7 linked regions of the Homo sapiens genome follow. The protein of the gene in region 2 purifies or fractionates together with the protein of the main gene of each other region. This does not show direct contact. Each region holds a gene or a part of one and is shown on either strand. Other genes may lie near its edges. The genes, in order: CYFIP1, INSIG2, AFTPH, CKAP2, PPM1B, ELFN2 and TAGAP.

Region 1 (3,500 bases), on a different chromosome or scaffold from region 2:
TGGGTCATTGAAGGGCTCATGCCCCGTCTCCCAGTCACACACGGTCTTCCTGATGGCCTGCAGGACACTGAACACCCCACCAAGTGATCAGCAAGGCCCAGAGGCCGAGACCTCCAGCCTCACAATCACACCATCTCCTCACCCAACTACAAGGCTCTCAGAACAGCCCCCATGAAAATACAAATTACTCTGGGGGCCATGGAGGGATGTGGTAATGGACCAGCTCAACAGGAAAGTTAAAAAGGAGTCTGCCTTCTGGAGAGTATTACTACCCCCAGAAGACTGCCCTGAGCTCCAGTTCGCATCTGTTAGCCCAGGGCAGCAGTGAGGTGGCTCTGAGTCATGCTGTGGGCAGGGAGAGGGCAGAACACAGCCTCCGCACGGAGCAGAGCTGGGCCCCGCCTGCCCGCAGCTGGCTGTCCCCAGTAACCAACAGGAATGTGAAGTCACCCACATGACCAGAGCCTGGCCATGTCTCTCGACTGGTTTGGAACACAGCCTCATCACCAACAGGGCTCCACCGTGCAGAGACCCCCATAAGGCACCATGCATGAACCACAGGCACCGCGAGCCTGGGATAAATGCACCTTGTCCCGGGGTCCTCAGACTCCCTAGACACTCGGCAGCTGACTTACTGTCCATTGTTTGGGTTAATAATTGGACCCATGCATTACTTTTAGAGGTAATTCACCAAGAGGGCATCTGAAGGTTGAAGATAAATATATTGAAATCATTTTTGAGAATTTAACGCTCCTGTTGTTTGAATCCAAGTTCATCCGAGGACGTGTGGGCACAGCGGGCACAGGGCGTGGGGAAGGCTGACCTCTGGATGACGTTCTTCTTCTTCTTGATGGCCTGCCGCAGCGGCTCCCTAAGGGTCACCTGGGAGAAGTCCTGCAGTGCGGCATAGACGGTGTGCCGGATGGCGTGGTTGAACACGCTCTCCATCCTGCCCATCAGCACCTGCAGGCCTTTGATCATGGCGATCACCTGCGGGGGACACAGCAACAGGGACGGCCCTTCTTAGGGATGGCACCAAGCCTCCTCTGCCTGGCACATGCCGGGGGCTGCTCCTCCTCGCCCACAGCACCTTACGCCCTCCCGCGTTCGTGCCCTGCAGCTGCCCTGCCCCAAAACGTCTTCTCCAAAGCCATAGTCAATGGAACTGTGCCCGCATCTGACTCCCCATCAGACCATGAGCACCTGGAGGACAGGGATGCATCTGACTCGAAACACACATGCATCCACCCCAGCACACCCTCCTGTGATGGAATTCAAATAGGAAAGAAGAAAAAGACTCAGGAAAGCAGGCATGATATTACTAGAAAAAGAAGTTACAAGAGGTTGTAGTCCAAATCCCATATTGTTCACAACAAAGGCGCAGTGAACTACCATTCACAGAAAAAGCCTGGAAGACTCTGATGGAACATAATTACATGACAAAGAGCTTCCAAAGGAATTCCTGGGACAGAAAAATGGTGCCAGGGCTCATTATTTCCCTGTTTCCAGACAGTAATTTTGTCATGACAGTGTGCTTTATTACTTTCTGAATAAACAATTGAAGGTCACAAACCAAGTATGACCTTTACAATTGCATGAGCTTTCTTACGGCTTTTGCCGTTTATAAATATTTCTACAGCCAACTTCATGATAGCTATGTGAGGCCTAGAAATCTCTCTGAAAGCAGCAAGTGAGGCAGAGCAAGACACACTTACCCCAAGTCCACCCTGCCGTGTGGATGTCTGACATATAAGACACCAAAGTGGAACATTTAATAGCACCAGTGAAACATAATTCACTTCTTTTTATCTTTTAACTAGAACGCTGTACCTAAGACTAATACATTTGGGAAAATCTTAACAACCCTTCTTTGGCCAGGCACAGTGGCTCACACCCATAATCCTGGCACTTTGGGAGGCTGAGGCGGGAGAATCACTTGAGACCAGAGTTCAAGATCAGCCCGAACAAAATGGCCAGACCCCATCTCTACAAAAAATTTAAAAATTAGCCAGGTGTGGTGGCATGAGCCTATAGTCCCAGCTACTCGGGAGGCTAAGCCAGGAGGATCACTTGAGCCTAGGAGTTCGAGGCTGCAGTGAGCCATGACTATGCCACTGCTCTCCAGCCTGGGTGACAGAGCGAGACCCTGTCTCAAAACAAAACAAAACAAAAACCCTACTTCAACATCTGAAAATGGTCTTCAGTCCACAGTAATAAAAAAAAACAAAAAACAAACAAACAAAAAAAACCTTTTGAAATTAAGTATTTGACAGATTCAAAATTAAGGCAGCTTTTTTTTTTTTTTTTTTTTTTTGAGACAGGGTCTCACTCTGTTGCCCAGACTGGAGTGCAGTGGCATGATCATAGCTCACTGCAGCCTTGAACTCCCAGGGTCAATCGATCCTCCTGCCTCAGCCTCCTGGGTAACTAGTTCTATAAGCATGCACTACCATGCTTGGCTAGGCATCTTCCTACTTTTATTAAATCTGTTGGTTTGAAGTTCACTTAGCAAGAACACAAATGTGTTTCCCCAAGGCTTCACACAGTCTCCCTCTATCACTTTCTGGTTTTATTCACACCTTTTGAGTTCCTCATTATGGCTTTATAAACAGCCTGATTCATGGGTAAATGAAGACGTGTCTGACAAGTACTTGAAACATGGCTTATATGATTTTGGTGCTTTTCTTTTTCATGAAATTTTCAGGTGGAAAAGTTGACAGTCTGCTTTTAATTCATCCTTCTATAACGTAAAGAATTTCCAAATAGACTGCTTTCATGTAAGACTCATGGTCTATATGCAATTAAAATAATGAAAATTTTAGAAAGGAAAAAGTCTGGAAGAAAACGCACCCAGCTGCTCAGCGCCATCTCTGTGATGGCGCCGCAGGCACTGTGCCTTCCTAATGCCATGCTTGTGTTTTCAGCATGCTTACTTTGGAAAACTGATGATTTTATATTGTTTTTCCAATCAACAAAAAAGAAAAGTTCTATTTAAAAAACCAAACGAGGAAAAACCCATTTAAGTGAACATAACAATCCTACATATTCACACTTACAGGAAGAAGGAAAAGGCAAGTTAACAGCAAACTGAGAGCTTTAGATGCACGCATTAGAAAACTAAAAAGGATAAAAATCATAATACTTATCAAACATTCATCACTAATTTATAGAAAACAGCAAAATAAACCCCCCCAAAATCGAAGAAAAATAACTAAAAGCACCCGGGCGCAGTGGCTCATGCCTGTAATCCCAGTATTTTGGGAGGCCGAGGCAGGCGGATCACAAGGTCAGGAGTTCGAGACCAGCCTGGCCAATATGGTGAAACCCCGTCTCTACTAAAAATACAAAAATTAGCCTGGTGTGGTGGTGCACACCTGTAGTCCCAGCTACTTGGGAGGCTAAGGCAGGAGAACTGCTTGAAACTGGGAGGTGGAGGTTGCAGTGAGCTGAGATGGCGTCACTACACTCCAGCCTAGGTGACACAGCGAGACTCTGTCTCA
Region 2 (3,500 bases):
GACCAATGGTGCAGCATTTGAAAAAGGCTGTGTGACCACCCTTCTATCTCGAGATGAGATGCTGCAATACTGTATGCATTTTCTAGTCCACAACTCTTTTGAGTTAGGCATGTGCTGAGTATAGATGGCTCACAGAACATCAAGAGATTAAGAACATATCTCGGCAATGCAGAGCTCCAATAACTATTAGTAAATCTAGAAGTTTCACACTATATTCCTATTTAAAAATCTGCTCCAAAATCCTGACAAGATTAACTGACAGGATTTTAAAATTTCTATACAAATAAAATGGCAACAAGCATCCCTAACAGTTGAAATGTAGTTAAACGAATATCACCTCTTTTTTTCTCAAGGGGTCATAAAACTAACAGCTCATTTGTCACCCCCATCCCCCCACCATATATATCCTCCCTTTGCCTGTTGCTGAGTAAAGTCAACTAAGAGCAGACATTCCAAGTCAATTTTCCTGAGCAACTGATGCCTAGGTAAAGAATTATTACATAGAGAATACTGACATGTATGTGCAAAGGTATAAATAAGTAAAATCGACTATATTTTTATGCATGTGATGTCAGACTTGCAAGTGAGAGACAACTGAGGAGAGAAAGCAAAAACACAAAAAGAAATTTAAACTGCCACACTGCCAACCCTGGGATTTGCCAATAAAAATCAAATCCATTGAGTATGCATGGTTCTCAGTTGCTCACTGAGAGGGAGAATTCGAAGAAGCTTGTCACTTCCCATTAAATGTCTTCTTTCTTTCCTTTAAATAAAGGCATGGCAGAGTCTGATAGCAATATATACAACACTGTGAGGTTCCACTGTTTGAGAGCTCAACAGAGTATGTCTGGGCCTCTTTTCCTCTTCTTGTACTTTTTTTTAAAAAAAACAAGAAAGACTGTTAAAATCATGCCTGTGTAAAATCATATGCAAACACAATCCTGCTTATAAATCAAATGGTTCTCTGATGCAAAAATCACATTTCTTGTGATACCTTTAAGTTATTTCCCAGTGACTAGTTACAGTCTACCAAAGCTAAACACTAAAGAAGTTTGTAAAATATCAGTAGTAAGTCATCACTTTTTTATGGGAATGTGCTTAAATGCAGGGAGGCACTAAAAGGAACACAGTTAAAGTCAGACATTTTGTAAGAAAACAGGAACTGAATAAACGAAAACACTCCATGAGGTATACTTCGACGCAAAACTATAAGATAATATTTTCCTTCAACAAATACTTAAGCCCTGACAATATGTCTGGTTCTTGGTATTTGCTGGAGATTTAAAAAGGTAAGGCCAGGCGTGGTGGCTCACACCTGTAATCCCAGCACTTTGAGAGGCCGAGGCAGGCGAATCGCGAGGTCAGGAGTTTGAGACCAGCCCGGCCAACATGGTGAAAACCTGTCTCCACTAAAAATACAAAAAAATAGCTGGACGTAGTGGTGGGCGCCTGTAATCCCAGCTACTCGGAAGGCTGAGGCAGGAGAATCGCTTGAAGCTGGGAGGTGGAGGTTGCAGTAAGCCGAGATGGCGCCACTGCACTCCAGCCCAGGTGACGGAGTGAGACTCCGTCTCAAAAAAAAAAAAAAAAAAAAAAAGGCAAAAGAGTAAGATACGATTCCAATTGCAAAGTGACCACAGAAACAATTAAATACAATCCTGCATTAAGGGCAGCTGACAGGACAGAGGGGTCCCAGGCTTCTCCTTGCCTGTGCTAGGGGAAGGCAAGGTGCTGGGCTGTCAGAAAAGCTTCACGGAAAGAGGTGACCCTTGAGGCAGGAGCATTCAGCAGTAAATGGCGCAGAAATAGTGCTCTCATTAAAGGGAGGTGGCTGAGGACATTCATGGAAAACTGGAAACTGCTGGTGTTAAGAGGAAGCTGTAAGCTTCAGACACAAAGGGAGCTGCAGGGTCCAGAAAGACTCTGAAGAAGAAAAAAGCAGTCAAGGGCCATATTATAAAGACTTTACCCTGCAGACAATGGGCAATCAGGAAAACAATGTCATCACTGTTGTACCAGAGAGAGGCCATCTTCTTAGCAGTGAGGGTACCATACAAGGGGGCTGAGAAAAGGGTGGGTGCAAAACTAGAGGCCGGCAAAGACTAAAGACTCCAAGCACAGCCATTGAGGGATGGACCAAGAAAGAGACAGAGGAAAGATGTAAGACTTGGAAACTGGATGTAGAACGGGAGAGAAAGCAAGGAATCTTACAAGGCTCTACAGGAATAGGGCAAGGGACTGCACAGCTAAACAGGAAAGATTTTTCTTTTCTTTTTACATTAGATATTATTTTCATACGTTTGGACACAACCAGGCTACTTGTGATTTTTGAGGCAACTTCTCTACTTATTTTATCCACACGAGTTGTCTTTTTCTATTTATTCTTTAGAAAGATTTCTTTGTGGCCCTCAATAATGCTGAAAAGATTTCTAATTCCAATTCTGGTGCATGGCACACATAAGGAAGTTAACTTGTAACATCAGCATTATCAAACTAAAAATATGGAATTAAGAAAAAAAAGTCATCAAAATTAGTTTACCAAAGTTCTCTATTAGTTGTCCCACCAGAACCACCACTAGCAAATTTTCCAGGATTGTGCTATAGAGAAAGGTGGCAAATAACAAGGAGCACTTTCTACACACAGAAGGTGGTGATTCTGGAGCCCCTCCAAAAGGTGGCTGCTCTATCTATGAATGTTAGTTGAACAGGAAAATCAAAGGATGATTATCAGTTTTTCTGACTTAAGATGGTAAGACCCTAGCGAGGTCTTGAAAATCCACGCCAACACATATACACAAAAACATATGCATATTACATACACACACAAACTCAAACACACTATGTTTCTTAAATCATTTACTTCTTTTCCCATGATACTTTCCCTAAAATAATGATGCAGGGGATGGCAGAGCAGAGATTTTGAGAGAATCCATTTTCCATCTCTGGCAACTTGGACAAATCTGATATCTTTCACTCTCATCTACTAAACACCATGACTTAACTAACAAAATTGGTAGCAGAATTGGCTGGAATCTAGATTTCCTAATGTCTCTCTACTTTCTTTTGCCCAAGTACCTTATGGTACAAACTGCTTTCAGAAGAAATACTTAAGCAAGAAATGTAAATGCAAATTCCCCAAATGAGGTTAAGTTTGTAAGTGTGACAAACCTAGTGGCTGGGAACAGGAAGGAAAGTAGTGGCTGAACTGTGGTATTAGCATTTGAAATTTTCCTTCCTAAAATGTAAGTTTATGGCAAAAGTGCTGACATTAAAGGGGCAGAAGGACAAGACAGCAGGTGCAGCCCTGTTACTCTTCATAGTGGAGGTACAATGAAACCTCAGTTAAGTTCTCCTGCCCCAGCCCAAATGCACAACACACGCCAGGGAATTCCATCTAGGTCTGGCACCCAGTCTGGAGGCTTGAAAAGTGGCATCCTGAGTAGGGGGAAAAGTGTGAGTAGCTTCCTTTTCCCTTCCCCAGCATGTGACATGTGGACCCA
Region 3 (3,500 bases), about 54 Mb from region 2:
AAGAAAGTTTCATATATGTTTAGGATCAGATATTACATTAGATTGCTTCAAATCTTACGTTGAATAAGATAGAGCAGGAGATTAGCAATCTTTTCTATAGAGAGCCAGACAGTAAATATGTTAGGCCTTGTAGGCCATATGTAAAGGAATAAGCATGGGTATGTTCCAGTGAAACTTATTTACAAAAACAGGCAGTAGATTTGTCCTGTGGGTCATGGTTTGCCCCTTGAGGTAGAGCAGTAAATAATAAATAACCAGAATCCACTAACAGCATTGCCCAACACAGGGAGGGAAACTCCTCAACAATTCAGCAACTAATAGAATGAACAAAGGCTTTTTTTTTTTTTTTTTTTGAGATAGAGTCTCGCTCTGTCACCCAGGTTGGAGTTTAGTGGTGCAATCTCGGCTCACTGCAAGCTCTGCCTCCCAGGTTCACGTCATTCTCCTGCCTCAGCCTCCCGAGTAGCTGGGACTACAGGTGCCCACCACCGCGCCCAGCTAATTTTTTGTATTTTTAGTAGACGGTGTTTCACCATGTTAGCCAGGATGGTCTCCATCTCCTGACCTCGTGATCCACCCACCTCGGTCTCCCAAAGTGCTGGGGTTACAGGTGTGAGCCACTGCGCCCAGCCCAAATATTTTTATTAAATTTACTCTGACATTTTATTTTTAAAAGTGTATCAATTTCCAGCCAGGTGCAGTGTCTCACGCCTGTAATCCCAGCACTTTGGGAAGCCGAGGCGGGTGGATTGCTTGAGCTCAGGAGTTTGAAACCAGCCTGGCCAACATGGTGAAACCCCGTCTCTACTAAAAATACAAAAATTAGCAGGGCATGGTGGCGCACGCCTGTAGTCCCAGCTACTCAGGAGGTTGAGGCATGAGAATCACTTGAACCAGGAGAGGTGGAGGTGGCAGTGAGCTGAGATCATGCCACTGTAGTCCAGCCTGGGTGACAGAGCAAGACTTGGTCTTAAAAAAAAAAAAAAAGTGTATCAATTTCCATAAGACCAGTTTGGTGGTAAGGGCATCCTGTAATGAGTTTCTCACCACTATCTTGTTTTGGGTAATAAATAAGGCCAAATTTAACTTACTACTAGTTAATTCCAGTAAGTAAATGACTGGTATAATAACACTTCAATAGAGGGCTATAGATCCAGGGGCCAAGACTCCAGTTTCTGCATTTATTTATTTTATTTTTTATTTTTTATTTTTTTGAGATGGAGTCTTACTCTGTCACCGAGGCTGGAGTGCAGTGGTGCGATCTCGGCTCACTGCAACCTTGGCCTCTCAGGTTCAAGCGATTCTGCTGCCTTAGCCTCCCAAGTAACTGGGATTATAGGCGTCTACCACCATTTCTGCCCAGTTTCTGCATTTATAATCTGGAGATATCAGGGTCTATCTACCTCACGAGGTGGATGATAATTCAGAGGATTAAATATTTGGCACCGAGGGTGTCAGAGGTGGCAGCTTTTATCATTACTACTGTTATTATACAAATGATACATACAGACACAGGGGGCTTGCCAGGGAATGAAATAAATGAATGGCAAAACTAGAATCAAAGCTCACTAAGAATGTTTCTCTACCATGATTTAGCATTCTAAATCACTATGAAAATACTTATCTCAATTTATCAATTTCTACCATATTATGATATAACAAGAAATTAAATAATCTAAGCATTCTGCATCCTTCCCAAGGTCATCCTATTGAGTTGGGGGAAAAAAAAGTACCTAGTTTTTAAGAGTATCTATTTTTAAGAGTCTCTTATATAAATGAAACCTGCTATAGTTACTCCTTGTAGAGTTTAAATTTTGGATATTGGTGGTTGGCTTACAGGCATTATGACTTAAATCTTGATTGCATTATGAAACACAAAATGTATAAACCACACATTAGGCATTAAGAATACTTTGCTTCTCAGCTGGGCGCGGTGGCTCATGCCTGTAATTCCAGCACTTTGGGAGGCCGAGGCAGGCAGATCACAAGGTCAGGAGTTCGAGACCAGCCTGACCAACATTGTGAAACCGTGTCTCTACTAAAAGTACAAAAAAATTAGCTGGGCGTGGTGGCTGGTGCCTGTAATCCCAGCTACTTGGGGAGGCCCAGGCAAAGAGAATCACTTGAACCTGGGAGGCAGAGGTGCAAGACTCCATCTCAAAAAGAGTACTTTGCTTTCCAAGAAGCACAATAAAGTTAAACATTCAAAAATGTGATGTAACATAGTCCAAATAACTTGGTAAGTAGAACAGTTACAAGAATATAACTAATGTAATACTCAGAAGAAGAGAAGTTAAAATAACCTACCACAAGAACAGTTTCTCTTATGACCAGACAGGTTTTTTTCAGGAAATAGATTTTCCCAAACAGATTGTGATCAGACACTAATTTTTTAAAGAAATCATTGCTATTTTGAACATAAAATTTGAGCACTTGGGATAAAAGGTGTATCAAAACTGTGAGAGTGGCAAAGGTTTCAAATTTGTTTTTCAAAAATTTTTTGGGGGTACATATATTATTTTCATCTGTTTTACAATACAATCATCCTCTCAACATCAGCCAAGGATAGTTTAACATATGCAAATAAATCAGTAGTAAAATTCAGTATCACATCAAAACTCTAGTTAAAGTAAAATATTAAACTTGGATTTCTTCTTATGAGTACAAAGGAACTTTGCTTATATTACTCTGCTTATGTGAACTCCTATTTCAATACAGAGTATATGCAGCCATAATGGGAAATCTACTGGTTTTGATTAGGTGGGGGCACAACACAAATCTTCAAACTCCCTGTAGCAGATTAATGCAGAAAAAGGTTGCATCAAACAGTGACATTTACTAACATATTACAGTACGTGTGGACTTGAATTAGATGTAAAATTCCAAAAAATAGATACTTTATTATTTAGAATTGGTGAAGTGACACTGGCTGAGCTCTAGTTTCCTTAGGCACGTAAGGCAGTATAAGTAAAGCAAACAATATCATTTTAACCCAGTTCAGGAAAGTGGGAGCCTAAATTCAGCAAAAGATCAAAAGATGTACTCTGAAACCTACTCAGAAGCTGCAAAAGCTTGCTATCATGTAACATAATTTTCATTTAATGCTCACATAGTGCCCACCATGTGGCAGACATTATTCTAAATGCTTTACAAAGTTTAGCTCATTTAAGTTTCAAAAGAACCATATGAGGGAGGTAATAATATCATCTCCATTTCCTGGATGAGAAAAGCAGAGCAGAAAGAGGTTAACTTCCCTGTGGTCACATGAATATTAAGTGGAGAGGCTGAGTTCCTACCCAGGAAGTATAGTTTCAGTGTAGGTGCTCTTAACCACTATATTATGTTGTCATCAAAGCAGTTCTAAGTTCAATTTCTAAAAATTGCAAGAGCTTTGAGGGCAGGGACTATGTCTTTTTCTTGAATTTCCAGTACCTGGGTTCCTGCACATAGTTGGTATTAATGTGCACCAGATTAAAAAAAAAAAAAAAAGCACTTCGCCT
Region 4 (3,500 bases), on a different chromosome or scaffold from region 2:
TTAGTTCAACCATTGTGGAAGACAGTGTGGCGATTCCTCAAAGACCTAGAGACAGAAATACTTTCAATCCAGTAATCCCATTACTGGGTATATACCCAAAGGAATATAAATCATTCTATTATAAAGATCCATGCACGCATATGTTTATTGCAGCACTAGTCACAATAGCAAAGACATAGAATCAATCCAGATGCCCATCAATGATAGACTGGATAAAGAAAATGTACATATACACCATGGAATACTATGCAGCTATAAAAAGGAATGAGATCATGTCCTTTGCAGGAACATGGATGGAGCTGGAGGCCATTATCCTTCGCAAACACAGGAACAGAAAACTAAATACTGCATGTGGGAGTTAAGTGATGAGAACACATGGACAGCTAAAGAACAACACACACTGGGGCACATGGGTTGGAGGAGGGAGAGGATCAGGAAAAATAATGGATACTAGGCTTAATACCTGGGTGATAAAATAATCTGTACAACAAACCCCCATGACACACATTTACCTTTGTAACAAACCTGCACATCCTGCACACGTACTCCTGATCTTAAAATAAAAGTTAAAAAACAACAACAAAAAAAAACTACAGTTCACATGAAGGAAATAAAATAACTAAAACTTACCTAAATTAGCTTTTTCTTGACTCTTCATTGTTAGAATATCTACAATCGTGTGTCGCATCTCTTCAATAGGCTTAATTTTTTTAATGAAGAAAGCAGATCCATGTAAGTTTTATTTTCTCTGACATTAACTAGGTATCCAAGTCGCGATTAAATTTTCATACTGTATTTTAAAGTAAGAGTGGCTCTTAAACCATGCTTCTCAGACCACTTACAATTAAGATTGAAAAATGGCTGTCTTGGCTGGGCACGATGGCTCACGCCTGTAATCCCAGCACTTTGGGAGGCCTAGACGGGCAGATCACGAGGTCAGGAGATCAAGACCATCCTGGCTAACACGGTGAAACCCCGTCTCTACTAAAAACACAAAAAAATGAGCCGGGCGTGGTGGCAGGCGCCTGTAGTCCCAGTTACTCGGGAGGCTGAGGCAGGAGAATGGCGTGAACCCAGGAAGCGGAGCTTGCAGTGAGCCGAGATCATGCCACTGCACTCTAGCCTGGGCGAGAGAGTGAGACTCCATCTCAAAAAAAAAAAACAAAAACAAAAACAAAAAAACCAAAAACGAAAAATGGCTGTCTTTTCCAATTTATAGAGTAAAAATGAAGGATAGAATTTCTTTTCCTTTTTTTTCTTTTTTCTTTTTTTGAGACAGTCTCCCTCTATTGCCAGGATGGAATGCAGTGGTGCGATCTCGGCTCATTGTAACCTCAGCCTCCCAGGTTCAAATGATTCTCTTGCCTCAGCCTCTCGAGTAGCTGGGATTACGGGTGGGCACCACCATGCCCAGCTAATTTTTTGTATTTTTAGTAGAGGCAGAGTTTCACCATGCTGGCCAGGCTTGCTTGAACTCCTGACCTCATGATTTGCCGGCCTCCCAAAGTGCTGGGATTACAGGTGTGAGCCACCACGCCTGGCCTAGAATTTCATATTTTAAAACTTCCTCCATAATTTTACTTAAGTCTTGCTCCTTTTCTCTTACATTTAAGTCTATGGTTATATTTTTGTTTCATATGCTATGAAATGTATCTCTGAAGAGCTAAGGTTGATCATCTCAACATACTTCATTCATTCAAAAATTTACAAAAAATTACTAAGTGACCATTATTTACCTAAGCATTTGCTATGTTCCACCCAACACAATCAAGATTAGGGAAGGTGTAATTCACAGTCTTAGTTCCAGAACTGAGTCCTGAATTACTCAGCTATCCTGCTTTCAGTTTTCTTGGCTAATTTTTTTTTTTTTTTTTTTTGAGACAGGGTGTTGCTCTGTTGACTCAGGATGGAGTTCAGTGGCATAATCATGGCTCACTAGTCTTGAACCCCAGAGCTCAAGCAATTCTCCCACTTCAGCTTCCCGTATAGCTGTGACCACAACTGTCTACCACCAAAAAAAAAACTTTAAAAATTTTATTTTTTGCAGAGATGGGGGGTCTCACCCTCTTGCCCAGGCTGGTCTTGAACTCTTGGACTCAAACGATCCTCCCGCCTCGGCTTCCCAACGTGTTGGGATTACAGCCGTGAACCATCATGCCTGGCCACTAATTTTAAGAGATGGGGTCTATGTTGCCCAGGCTGGACTCAAACTCCTGGGCTCAGGCAATCCTCCCACCTTGGCCTCCCAAGTAGTTGAGACTATAGGTATCCACTACTGTGCCCAGCCATGTTGGCTAATTTTGATTCTTGTTTTCCAGCAGCTTTTCCTCTGGTGTTACATCTTGCTGTTTACATTATTGCTTTCTATGTGAGCCTTGGCTCCAGTTTTGCATCCTTGCTACAATGTCCTTAGCTGCCTTAAGTAATGTCCCTTCTGATACAATGTAGTAGGGGCCTAACACTCCCCTCCAGGTAGCATTCTGTCAAATATAATTACCATTCTAGAAAGTTTTACACATGACAGCCACTGACAGACTATCTGCTGAATATCTGATTTTTTATTTAAGTGAAAAGTCAAATAGCGTTCGTTGATTTTGTTGAGACAAAGGTGAATAGATCTTTCTTAAAAGGGAGTTTTAAAAAATTATCTATGTAAACAATCTCCAAGAATGTGTTTCTGAGAAACCTGGTCAAAAGGAAACATATTTGAAGAACATGTATCCATAAAAACAAAAACCCAACCAAACAAAAAACTCAAGAAATGATTTATTCTATACCCAAAACTTTGTGTATCAATACGCTAGAAGAGATAAGGAGTATGGTATCGAGGCACTATAGAGGTAATAATGTTAGAGAAACCGGTTTATTGCCATTTTCTGTATGCAGAAAGGACCAATATATACAGTGTATACATATTATATATATATGTGTGTGTGTATATATGTGTATATGTGTATATATGTGTATGTGTGTATATATATGTGTGCATATATGTGTGCATATATGTGTGTATATATGTGTGCATATATATGTGTATATATATGTGTGTATATATATGTGTGTATATATATACATATATGAGTACATTCGGGTTTACTCTTAAAGAGTTCTCACACAAAACCAAGAGAGCTTGATAACATTTAAAAAGCGAATTTAATCCCTTTTGCTTTATATTCAATAAACAAATTTTAATATTACATTCAGTCTCCCAGTAAACTTCCAACCAGGAAATGCATACAATAATATGCTAAAACATTTCATGCAGAAAGTTTCATTAAATATACATTTCAGCTTATATCCATTTTCTAAAATCTGATTATTCCCAATACAGGAATAAAAGACTTAGAAAGCCAACAAACAGCTTTTATAATGCAATCCTTGCAGCCTTTAAACATTTATTACCACTACATATACAAAGAAAATTTTCTCAAGTTATGTTGTGATGTGTTTCAAATTAATTCCGAATTGTCTACTACACTGTAATTGTAAAGATCAGTAAA
Region 5 (3,500 bases), about 74 Mb from region 2:
CTCTAAATGAAGCAATTCTGACCTGTAGATTTTTGAGACAAGCATAGGCATATGTTTGTTGCCTGACTAGCTAATGAAAACAGCATTTTCCCCAATTATAAAAAAAAGGTATATACTTACTATTGGAAAAAAAATCCAGATGATGAAGAAAATATAGAGAAACACCCAAAATTTTGCCATCCACCCTAAGTCAGCTACTTTCATTGTTGTGGTGTATATTGTTCCAGTCTTTTCTGCCTGCCTGTGAGTGTGTGTATTTTTATAAAACCGAGATGATTATACTTGTTATTCTACAGCCTGCCTTTTCCAACAATATATTGTAGAGAGATCTCCATGCCTATAAGTATTGATCTGTATCATTTTTCTTGGCTGCGTAGTATTTTATTGAAAGAATGAGGTTGTGAGGGAATAGCCAAAAAATCTATTAGGTCTGTAATTTGGACTAAGGAAAGAAGTTTGTGTTAGTAGATTAACTCACTTATCCATTGAAAGGATGCTAGTTTTTGAGAATTTTGACTCGACCCTTCTGAATGAGGTTTAAATATTTCTGGTGGTATATCTTCACTTGCTAGCTTTTATCAATTTAGAGTGATTAAATGTTCATGTTGATGGTGTTAAAAGATTCTAGATGGCATCCTAGAATCTCAGAAATGAGGAATGATAATAACAGACAAGAAGTTGGGGCCCATGATTCATTCAATGTTAATGGAAGCTGACCATCATAGTTCCTTCTAATGGAGCTGCATTCAAATTGAAATCAGTTTGGAGGTTTGAATTGAAACAAAACAGACTTAAAATTATTTTTGAACCTTTGAAAGTTACTTATGGAAACCTTCATTTCTGTTTAACTTCGTAATTTTGTCTTTCCATTTATTTGTATTGTAAAAGCAAGGGTTAGCAATAAGATCAAATATAATTACTTTGAATTTACTCAGAAAAATTGTAAGTTAAAAATTCATGGAAAGCACTTAGCGATTGCACAGTAGTTACCTGCTGTAAGAGGAGAGGAAACATTAATAAGTAGATGTTTCCCTGATAAGAGATTTAAATGAAGTCCTAGTTTTTTCTAACACCTCCATCACTTGTCATACTTTCATAATTTATAAGCACTTTTATCTTAACTCATTAAATCTTGGGAGGTTATCATAATCATAATCGTGGTAGTATTAGTAAATTATTGCTTTCTGTAAGCCAAACACTATTCTAAATACTTTACATATTTTAACTCATGTAATTTTCACAACCATATGAGGTAGTTAAGATGACGAGGTCAGGAGATCGAGACCATCCTGGCTAACGCAGTGAAACCCCGTCTCTATTAAAAAATAGAAAAAATCGGCCGGGCGTTGTGGTGGGCGCTTGTAGTCCCAGCTACTCAGGAGGCTGAGGCAGGAGAATGACTTGAACCCGGGAGGCAGAGCTTGCAGTGAGCCGAGATCACGCCACTGCACTCCAGTCTGGGTGACAGAGCGAGACTCCGTCTCAAAAAAAAAAAAAAAAAAAAAAAAAAGATAAGCATTTTTCAGGGTTGCCAGTTAATATTAATCTGTAAGTGTTGTATGACTGTGGTCAGGTATTATCCTATTTAAATTAGGTATTTAACTCGAGGGGAGAATGGGAGCTAAGAAAGCAACCCTCCCATTTTATTTGCAATGCTGGCATTTATGGTGTTTACTGCCAACTAATTTCGGGTTGCTTAAAATATGTAACTGCCACGTGCATAGCTTTTCATAACTTGTAAATGATACATACTTATTAATCCTCATAGTAACTTTCTGAGGTGAACAAAATAAAAAGTTTTTTTAATTTGCAAGTAAGGAAATGGAGGTTGTTTGATATTAAAAGATATCCATAAGTCATATACTTGGTGAGTATTGAGGCTGAGACTAGTTTTCTGACTCAAGTTTAGTATTTTTGTTAACAATATTTCCCAGAAGGGCCTGATAAAATAAAGAAGAGTGGGTGTGGGTGTGGGTGTGGGTGTGTGTGTGTGTGTGTGTGTGTGTAAGTGTCTGTCTGTTTCGGTTTTCATGGTCTGAGAAATTTTTCCCCAAGGGAAACATTAAGACTAAATTTTTTTTGTAACAAATACAGAGATGTTTGAAGTAAAGTGATTCCCCTTGATGTTTCTGCTTTCCAGTCTCATCTCACTTAGGGAACCACTGCTCATGGTTTGCTGTATATCTTTCCAAATGGTTCTCTGTGATTATTGATAGAAATGTATAAACGTAAAATAGGATTTTTTCTTTTTTTGTATTTTATAGAAAAAGATCATGCTATGTTTGTTACTTTGTCACCTGTTTTGTTTTTCTTAAATTATAAAAGTCGGTATTCTTTTAAATTGTTCTTTTAAAACATTATTTGATTTTCCAAAATTTCATTTATATACCATCTACCAGAAGCCTATTTATTTTAAAACATGAGATAGTACCTCATAGTTGGATAAAATTGAGGGAAATTATCATTTTCCAAAGGCAACATCATTCTATATTAATTTATATAACATAGAAAATGTAACCCCCTCAATAATTGTTTAGTTCTAAACTCAGGAGAATTGCTTGAACCTGGGATGCAGAGGTTGCAGTGAGCTGAGATCGCGCCATTGCACTCCAGCCTGGGCGACAGAGTGAGACTCCGTGTCAAAAAAACAAAAACAAACAAAAAACTGTATCAGATTGTTTTCTGTTTAAGTTTAGATGCCCTTATTTATGGCAGGGGCACTGGCGTCTTTGATCTGGTACTATGATTATTAAGAGTGTTAACTGCTGTGCTGTTGTAAAAAGTAAAAAGAACATGTAATAATCAATTTTTATATGCAGAGCTAATTTCTTTAGTTATCCAAACTGGATTTAGAAAAAAAAATGTTTTATTTATGGACTTAGTGAAAACTTTATACTGATTATACAAGGATGTTTTGTCTCTAAAAAACAATGGCACAAAGGAAAGGACCTTTTCTGTTGCTGTATAACAGCTACTGAAACATATTCATACTTGGTGTTTAGGGGAAAGCCATCTTTACATAGAAATAGAAGCAAGCCAGGCAAGGTGGCTAAGAAGCAACATCACTGAAATCACACATGCCTGAGATGTAAATATAAATTATTTCCCTTAAATGTCTTTGGAGAACCATAAATTTATTGGAACTCTCTTTCAATTAATTTTCCAAAAGTATTTATATTTTATAACTTACAAAAATCGAATGGAAATTAGATAAGGAAATGTTCCACAATGCTCATGTTGTTGTTACCAAAAACTCAAAAGGGTTAAAAGAAATTAGATTTCTAAAAGTGTAAGGTGTTAATTCCGTTTATGCATAAAATTGCTTTATAAAGTGTAATTATGCTTGATTCTTTTTTTGTTGTTGTGTTTTAGAAAGGGTGTCTCACTGTGTTGCCCGGGCTAGTCTCAAACTCCTGGCCTTAAATGATCCTCCTGCCTCAGCCTCCCAAACTGCGGGGATTACAGGCAGCCACCATGCCCAGCTGTTTGATTCTTGAATA
Region 6 (3,500 bases), on a different chromosome or scaffold from region 2:
GCTCCAGAAACAGTCAGCGTGATAGGAACGGGCACACTCAGCAAGCCTTCTCCAGTGGGGCGTGTCTAGGGCGGTCACTGGGGGCTCCATGCCTGTTCCTCAATATCCCCTGAGGTCTTGTAGGATGCTTGTTTTTGGCAGCAGAATTGGGTTCCAGTGACACCCCTGCCGCATCTGCATCCTGGCTGTGTGTGACAGAGGTCAGCCTCTCCTGTCTCTGTAAGAGGGTGGTGGCAGCTTCCCTTGCGGGTGTGATGTGTGAGTGTGAAAGGGTGACAACCGTGTGCAGGGCTGGGAGGCACACATTGCTGCTACCCTCACCTGCTCCGGCCACAGTGCCTGGGGGCCAAGCTCCTCTCTCGGTGCCCCCACCTGCCCCATGTTGTGACATGTGCTGTGTGGAGTGGATGGCCGAGAAGTAGGATTGCCTCGAAACCTGACGCTTCTTAGCAAGTTAGACCTCTTCAGGAGCTGTGTTAATCGTCTAGAAGGTTTACCCAGTCCTCTGCCTCCTGCCGTCCCAGCCCAATCCCTGATTAAATTAACCTTCTCTTGGCTCAATTACCACCTGGGGCAGAGGCATTGACATTATTACTGGAGATGGTGTCTGGGGGTTGGAATAATTGAGCCCCCTCTCCTTCCCCCTAGCTCTGCCGACAGTCCCCAGGAAAGCCCCAGAGAAGCCCTGAGGACTCAAGAGCCACCTGGGCAGGCTTGCTTATGCCTGGGGTGCCAGAGGAAGGGTGCTGGCTGCACGATGCTGCTGATTGAAATAGTAATAACTATAGTGATAATAATAATAATGATATCAGCTAATATTATTGAGCCCCTACTGAGAGCCAGGCCCGGTTCGAAGCTCTTTATGGGCGGCATTCGTTTAGTCCCACAAAAGCCAGCTGCAGCAGGCACTATTATTATTCCTCATTTTGAAGACAAGAAACAGAGAGGTTACAGACCAGTCCAGGGCCACACAGCGATGGAACCAGGACTGGAACCCTCGAAGGGAAACTCTCACATCAGCACCATTGGCTGCTGAACTCCTTTGCCAGATGGGCCTGGAGGCCTCTACATCTTGGCCTACCCCTCTCACTGAAGGCCCTTTCTGGGCCTTGCTTTGCTTATCTGTAAATGGGTGCAGTGACCCTGCCCTAGGGAAGCTGGGGGTGGCGGACGCCCTTTGCTTTGGCTGCAAGGAGAGACAGGAAAGGAGGGGCCTCGTGGGTGGTGCCTGCATCTCAACCCCCCATCCCATTCCCCACAGAGATGGGACACCCCCAAAGGCAGCCCTTTGCTCCCTGGCCCTCCCACAGTGCCTCGAACAGCAGCGCTTGGAGGGCTCCCCCGGGTGACAGTGGGGAGGTTGCCCCAGGATCAGTATCTTCTTCAGGTCCCGAGTCTATCGTGGCCTCAGCTGTGGCCCCCTGGACTCCCCACCTGGCCATCTTGCTTGTGGAAAGGGCAGGGGCAGGGCTCCAAATCCAACCTCTTTTCCTCCTCGGTGTGGGTCCTGGGCAAGTCACTTCCCCCCCCCCCCCCGAGGCCCAGTTTCCTCAATATGAAGTGGGGACAAAAGTACCGAATTCTTGGTTGGGCGTGGTGGCTCACACCTGTAATCCTAGCACTTTGGGAGGCCGAGGCAGAAGGATCACCTGAGGTCAGGAGTTCGAGACCAGCCTGGCCAACATGGTGAAACCCTGTCTCTACTAAAAATACAAAAAATTATTCGGGCATCGTGGTGCATGCCTGTAATCCCAGCTACTCAGGAGGTTGAGGCAGGAGAATCGCTTGAACCCAGGAGGCCCAGGTTGCAGTGAGCCGAGATTGTGCTACTGCACTCCAGCCTGGGTGACAGAGTGAGGCTCCGTCTCAAAAAAAACTTCCCCAGTAGCTGGGATTACAGGCACACACCACCACACCCGGCTAATTTTTGTATTTTTAGTAGAGACGAGGTTTCACTATGTTGGTTAGGCTGGTCTCGAACTCCTGACCTCGTGATCCTCCCTCCTTAGCCTCCCAAAGTGCTGGGATTGCAGGCGTGAGCCACTGTGCCTGGCCAGAACAACAACAGCAACAATAAAACAACCAAAAAACAAAAAAAACGAATTCTTAACCCTTCTGGGTTGTCTTAAAGGTCATGCTAAAGGTTAGGTAAGAGAAGACCACGTGTATAACATCCTGTCTGGCATGCGAGATGCCATTATTTTCCTCCCCCTTCCCATCTGCCCCCTCCGTTCATTCCTGGCTTCCTGGAAGGGGTCTGCACTGTGCATGCATGTGTCTGTTTCTTTCCCATCCTTTTCACCCTCTGCTTTTCACCGCCTGAAGTGCATGGGTACTGCTGGGGTTGGGGGCGCCTAAGGATGCATGAAAAGAGCCTGGGTGCTGCCAGCTCTTGTGACTGTTTGTGTACACTGGTCACCACCTCTCTCAGGGGGAAGTAGGGAATGAATCCCAAGGCTGCCTGACCAGCCTGCCGTGGGCCTAGTCCCAAGACTCAGGCCTGACTCAGTTTCCCTCCTTGGCCCATCTATTATCCTTCTCCCCCTACAATTGCCCCTGAATCTTGGAGAGACAGAGGCTGTGGGGTCAGCCGACCTGCCTCACTCCCTTCCTGGCCCTTCTCATTCCCCAGTGGATTTCCTACATCTGCCTATTGCCTGTCTTATTTCTCCCACTTCATGTCAGCTCTGTGCAGGCGGAGACTGGTAGGCCCTCAAAAAATACTTATTAAACAAATTCCTTTCATCTACATGCTACCGAGGACGGATCGCTGCATTTTGCATTCAGATGGCGCGTGCACACACACCCTTATTAGCATGTTTCACCCAGGGAGAAATGCTGGGCCCCGGGGCTCAGGCAGGAACCCCCAGAGAGGAGCCCCTGCCTGGCAGAGCTCAGGGCCCTGGAGGAGAGGTGAGACACGGGAACCTCTGACAAGTGCCCAGCATGGGGTCTGCACACAGTAGGGCTTGCTTGACAGGTGATTCTTGTCCCTTTGTGACCTGACCGAGAGGGGGTTGCTGCTGCAGGCTGGAGGCCAGGTGTGGAGCGAGCCTCCCAGGCAGGGCTGGAGAGTTTGTGCCAACTTCTGCTCTGGGCTTTGCAGAATTCTCTCGATTATGCACCTGCTATGTGCCAGGCATCGGGCAAGGCGCTCTCTGTTATCTTGTTTAACTTTGGCTGGAGGATTGTGAAAGAGGTCCTGCCTACCCCTGGGTGGGGGCATGCCATATGGAGTGACCGTGTGAGCAGGGGCCCGGAGGTGGGGAAGCCCAGAGTGGATTTTGAGAAGATGAGTCTGGACATGTAGTTTGAGGAACAACCACACGGGACCATCCATGCTGCGCCAAGAAATTGAGTAATATCCTTTTTGTCAGGGAGCATTAGAATCTCTGGGTGTTCGTTAAAATGCAGATTCTTGGGCCCTGTCCACTGAGATTTTGATTGGGAGAGTGGACGAGGGGAAAATTGCAGGAACTTGCAATTTTAATGCTTTCCCG
Region 7 (3,500 bases), on a different chromosome or scaffold from region 2:
TTTTTACTTTCAAATAAGGAAGGCAATTTATTGTAGTGAAATTACATTGAAGTTTTATATATGACCCCCAATGCATATAAAATCATTTACCTCCACATTATAGGATAGGATATCATGAACTACAAAGATACTCAAAGTGCTATAGATGAGTTAATATTGATGTAATACATTTTCATTAATCTACCCACATTTAATTGGATGATTGAAAGGACACGTTGAAGTGTTTTTCATGATTTTTGCTACGGCCCCAGCTTTTACTGGAGTTTTTAATGCCTTTGATGACTCCAGACACTCAACTCTGTTCCTTGCAGTCTGTTTCTTTCTTCTATGGTGGTGATTAGTTATTGCAAGACTGCTTATATAGAGTAATATATAGTTTACTCTGGTATGGAGTAAACTTATACCAGAGATTTAAACATTTCTCCCTAAATGGAGTTTGTGGAAGATGTGAAAATTGGCATGACATTTGAGGCCACATTAAAAAAGCGAAGATAATTTTTAAACACTAACCAAGAGAAAAGTGCCCCAGGAAGCAAGGAACAGCAGTGTACTTCACTGCAAGTTCAAAACGTGTGCAGGGATTATTAGACATCCTTTGCACCTAACACCTTATCTATAATACATTTGATACATTTTTACATATTGCACAAATCCAGGTACACAGAGACTATCTGATGCGCCATGGCCATGGTGTAGCTATCCTCACTGAGGAGGGCTTTCCACAACTTTCTCAAGGAGCTTATTCAAGACCTTTTAAAAACAATCTACAGGCAGTTCTTTACAAGTCTCATATTTACAGATAGCACAAGCTATGGCATGGCGTATGGCCTCCCTCCTAAATATACGATTCTTTGGCATATTGGAATTGGTCAGCCTCAAAGACCGGCTGGCTACATCGTCGCACGAGACAGTCCCGCTTATTCCTCTGCACGGACTCGGAGACGGTCCTCAGCGGGAGGAGCTCAGGTCTCCCTGGGCCAGACACGTGCCCCAGAGAGTCCCCAGAAGCATGGACAGTTCTGCTCTGTTTCCATCGCTCAGGCAGGGGAGAGAGTCCGTGGCCAGGGAGTGGCTCTTTGCTGCCCCTGTGTCTTGAGTCCTCTACGTGGTGAGCAGGTGGAAGAGGGGGTAGGAGGCAGTGCGCCTCCAGCATCCTCGCCCTCATGCTCCCCACCGTCATGCTCCCCACGGTCTGGCTCTCGGAGGCCACTAGTCTGGCTGCCGGGCCCTGCATGGCCTCTTCATAAGAGGGTGGGCTTCCAGGCCTCTCCCAGTCAGCTCCCTGGAACACATCATCCACCGAGAGGGCGTGGGGTCTCAGGCAGAAGCCGCGGGCTGTTTGGTTGTGGGTTTCACACCCATTTTCCTGCACGATTCGGCCGGCAAGCTGGCTTTCCTTTCTGACACCCCTCGGGACGTGGTCCCTGGTAAAGTCTTGCGATTTCCCAGAGCCCGCGCTGAGGTTTTTGGTCAGCACTTTTTTGTGAGGGGCAAAGGTGAAAGACATGGAGTGCTTTTTAATTTCTCGGCTGGGCTTGCCTTTCTCTGTCTTTGTGGTGAAAGACTGATGTCTGCTGAAGAAATTTCTTTTGGGACTGGAAGGAGAAGCCACGGGCGAGCTGTCAGAGGACGCGTCCAGCGAGCTGCTGGAGAAGGCTTTGAGAACCAGTGCCCGCGGGAGCACCGAACCCGGGGCCAAGTTCTTGATCTTCAGGTCCACCGGCCTCTTGGTTTTGCCTTGCACTGCAGGGAAGACCTCCTCTGGAAATGGGTCTTCAGCCTCCTCACTTTCCAAACGAGAGCCTACCCGGGGCACGGGGAAGTCCCCTTCACTCTTTGTTAGTGTTTGGTTTGTCACCCGGCTCTCGAGGCACTCCTGGGAGGATGGCATGCTGGGCTCTGAGTATCTCCTATCGGGCTGTGCGAGGGAGCTTTTCAGCCTGGCCACGGTGCTCACAATGGGCTCTGGGCTGACCTCTCGGGCATCCTGTGGGCCCGCGCTATCCAAGCCAGCAGCTGTGGCCATGGGCACCTGGGGCTGCCTGCTGGGAGAGCTGATGCCACTGCTGCTGTTGGATTCCACATCAGGGTCGTTGCTGTCGTAGGCTGAGTCATTCTGCAGGGTCGACACATCTGGGGGAAGTCAAGCAGCAGTTGAACATTTGTTTGGGTTTATTTATTTATTTATTTTTATTTGTATTTTTTATTTTCATTTTTTGAGATGGAGTCTCGGTTTGTTGCCCAGGCTGGAGTGCAGTGATGTGATCTCGGCTCACTGCAACCTCTACCTCCCGGGTTCAAGTGATTCTCCTTCCTCAGCCTCAGTAGCTGGGATTACAGGTGCCCGCCACCATGCCTGGCTATTTTTTCTATTTTTAGTAGAGACGGGGTTTCACCATGTTGGCTAGGCTGTTTTTGAACTCCTGATCTCAGGTAATCTGCCTGCCTTGGCCTCCCAAAGTGCTGGGATTATAGGCGTGAGCCACCACACACGGCCATTTAGGTTCTTTTAGAAATGAACTTTGCTACAGTTCGCCCTGCTCATACCAATCAGGGCACTAGGTGATTTATTAGCAGAACTACTTAGGGGCTTGATATGACAAGAAATGTACCACATGAAAAGTTTATTTCTTTCTGAATTTATTTTGAGATCAGAAGAAAAATAGGGAAAGGAAATGAGTAAAGGAGGGAGGAAGGAGAGAAAGAGAGGAGAGAATAAGAAAAGAGAGAACAGCATTTCACTGAAAATGTATTGACCTTAATTTTTAAAACTGCTCCTTTTACTGGACCCATTTTCATTGTGATGGAGTCATATCCCATGAAGTGGAAACAAAAGTTTCTCACTCCAACTCCAGAGCTAAAGGTAGCTTAGTGAAATCAGCAGTGATTTGCGATGTACACTGGGAAGGGGGAAAGACTATCTGTGGTCTGAGGAGGCGCTGCAGGAAAAGCCCGGAGCAGGGTTTTCATGTTTAATGACTTCCTAATGGACTGGAGTCTAGTCTGACTCGGTGATTTGTGAAGGTAACTTCTGCCTCAAATATCAGAGATGCTTTACATGACTGGCAGACTGGCATGAACTTTTCCCTACAATCGTAATCAAATGATAGCACATTCCATACCTGAACTGTCAGTGTGCTCCAGGGAGTCATCAGAAGTGATACTGGAATGCACTGGAATGTTCTCCCCAAATATTTCAAAGCAGTTATCAATGAGGAATTCCACCAGTGTCTTCACCTGTGAGGAAAAGTAAGCAATTTGTCAGCTTGAAGACTTTTTTTTTTTTTTTTTTTTTTTGGAGGTGAGGAAGAATGGGGACACTGGAGTCAGGTGCCAAAATGAGAATCTGAGATCTTTATGTGTCTGAAAAGAGCATACAGAAATTTGGTAACAATCAGATACTTTTTTTTTTTTTTGAGACAGGCTTTCACTCTGTCACCAGGCTGGAGTGCAGTAGCCTGATCTCAGCTCACTGCAACCTCTGCCTCCCGGGCTCAAGC

Evidence for each region.
Region 1: the proteins of INSIG2 (region 2) and CYFIP1 purify together in Homo sapiens (affinity purification with mass spectrometry, with the first as the bait; one large-scale study listed by BioGRID). This does not show direct contact.
Region 3: the proteins of INSIG2 (region 2) and AFTPH purify together in Homo sapiens (affinity purification with mass spectrometry, with the first as the bait; one large-scale study listed by BioGRID). This does not show direct contact.
Region 4: the proteins of INSIG2 (region 2) and CKAP2 purify together in Homo sapiens (affinity purification with mass spectrometry, with the first as the bait; one large-scale study listed by BioGRID). This does not show direct contact.
Region 5: the proteins of INSIG2 (region 2) and PPM1B purify together in Homo sapiens (affinity purification with mass spectrometry, with the first as the bait; one large-scale study listed by BioGRID). This does not show direct contact.
Region 6: the proteins of INSIG2 (region 2) and ELFN2 purify together in Homo sapiens (affinity purification with mass spectrometry, with the first as the bait; one large-scale study listed by BioGRID). This does not show direct contact.
Region 7: the proteins of INSIG2 (region 2) and TAGAP purify together in Homo sapiens (affinity purification with mass spectrometry, with the first as the bait; one large-scale study listed by BioGRID). This does not show direct contact.

Annotation. Positions count from the first base shown.
Region 1 is NC_000015.10:22,917,869-22,921,368, forward strand, and holds part of CYFIP1 (cytoplasmic FMR1-interacting protein 1), read right to left. Parts: intron 991-3,500; coding exon 824-990; intron 68-823; coding exon 1-67. UniProt on the Homo sapiens protein: Component of the CYFIP1-EIF4E-FMR1 complex which binds to the mRNA cap and mediates translational repression. In the CYFIP1-EIF4E-FMR1 complex this subunit is an adapter between EIF4E and FMR1.
Region 2 is NC_000002.12:118,098,471-118,101,970, reverse strand, and holds part of INSIG2 (insulin-induced gene 2 protein), read right to left. Parts: intron 1-3,500. UniProt on the Homo sapiens protein: Oxysterol-binding protein that mediates feedback control of cholesterol synthesis by controlling both endoplasmic reticulum to Golgi transport of SCAP and degradation of HMGCR.
Region 3 is NC_000002.12:64,562,328-64,565,827, reverse strand, and holds part of AFTPH (aftiphilin), read right to left. Parts: intron 1-3,500. UniProt on the Homo sapiens protein: Component of clathrin-coated vesicles.
Region 4 is NC_000013.11:52,465,478-52,468,977, reverse strand, and holds part of CKAP2 (cytoskeleton-associated protein 2), read right to left. Parts: exon of another isoform or gene 3,135-3,500; intron 701-3,134; coding exon 631-700; intron 1-630. UniProt on the Homo sapiens protein: Possesses microtubule stabilizing properties. Involved in regulating aneuploidy, cell cycling, and cell death in a p53/TP53-dependent manner.
Region 5 is NC_000002.12:44,203,375-44,206,874, forward strand, and holds part of PPM1B (protein phosphatase 1B), read left to right. Parts: intron 1-3,500.
Region 6 is NC_000022.11:37,420,980-37,424,479, reverse strand, and holds part of ELFN2 (protein phosphatase 1 regulatory subunit 29 precursor), read left to right. Parts: intron 1-3,500. UniProt on the Homo sapiens protein: Inhibits phosphatase activity of protein phosphatase 1 (PP1) complexes.
Region 7 is NC_000006.12:159,034,992-159,038,491, forward strand, and holds part of TAGAP (T-cell activation Rho GTPase-activating protein), read right to left. Parts: intron 3,238-3,500; coding exon 3,123-3,237; intron 2,134-3,122; coding exon 836-2,133; 3' UTR 1-835. UniProt on the Homo sapiens protein: May function as a GTPase-activating protein and may play important roles during T-cell activation.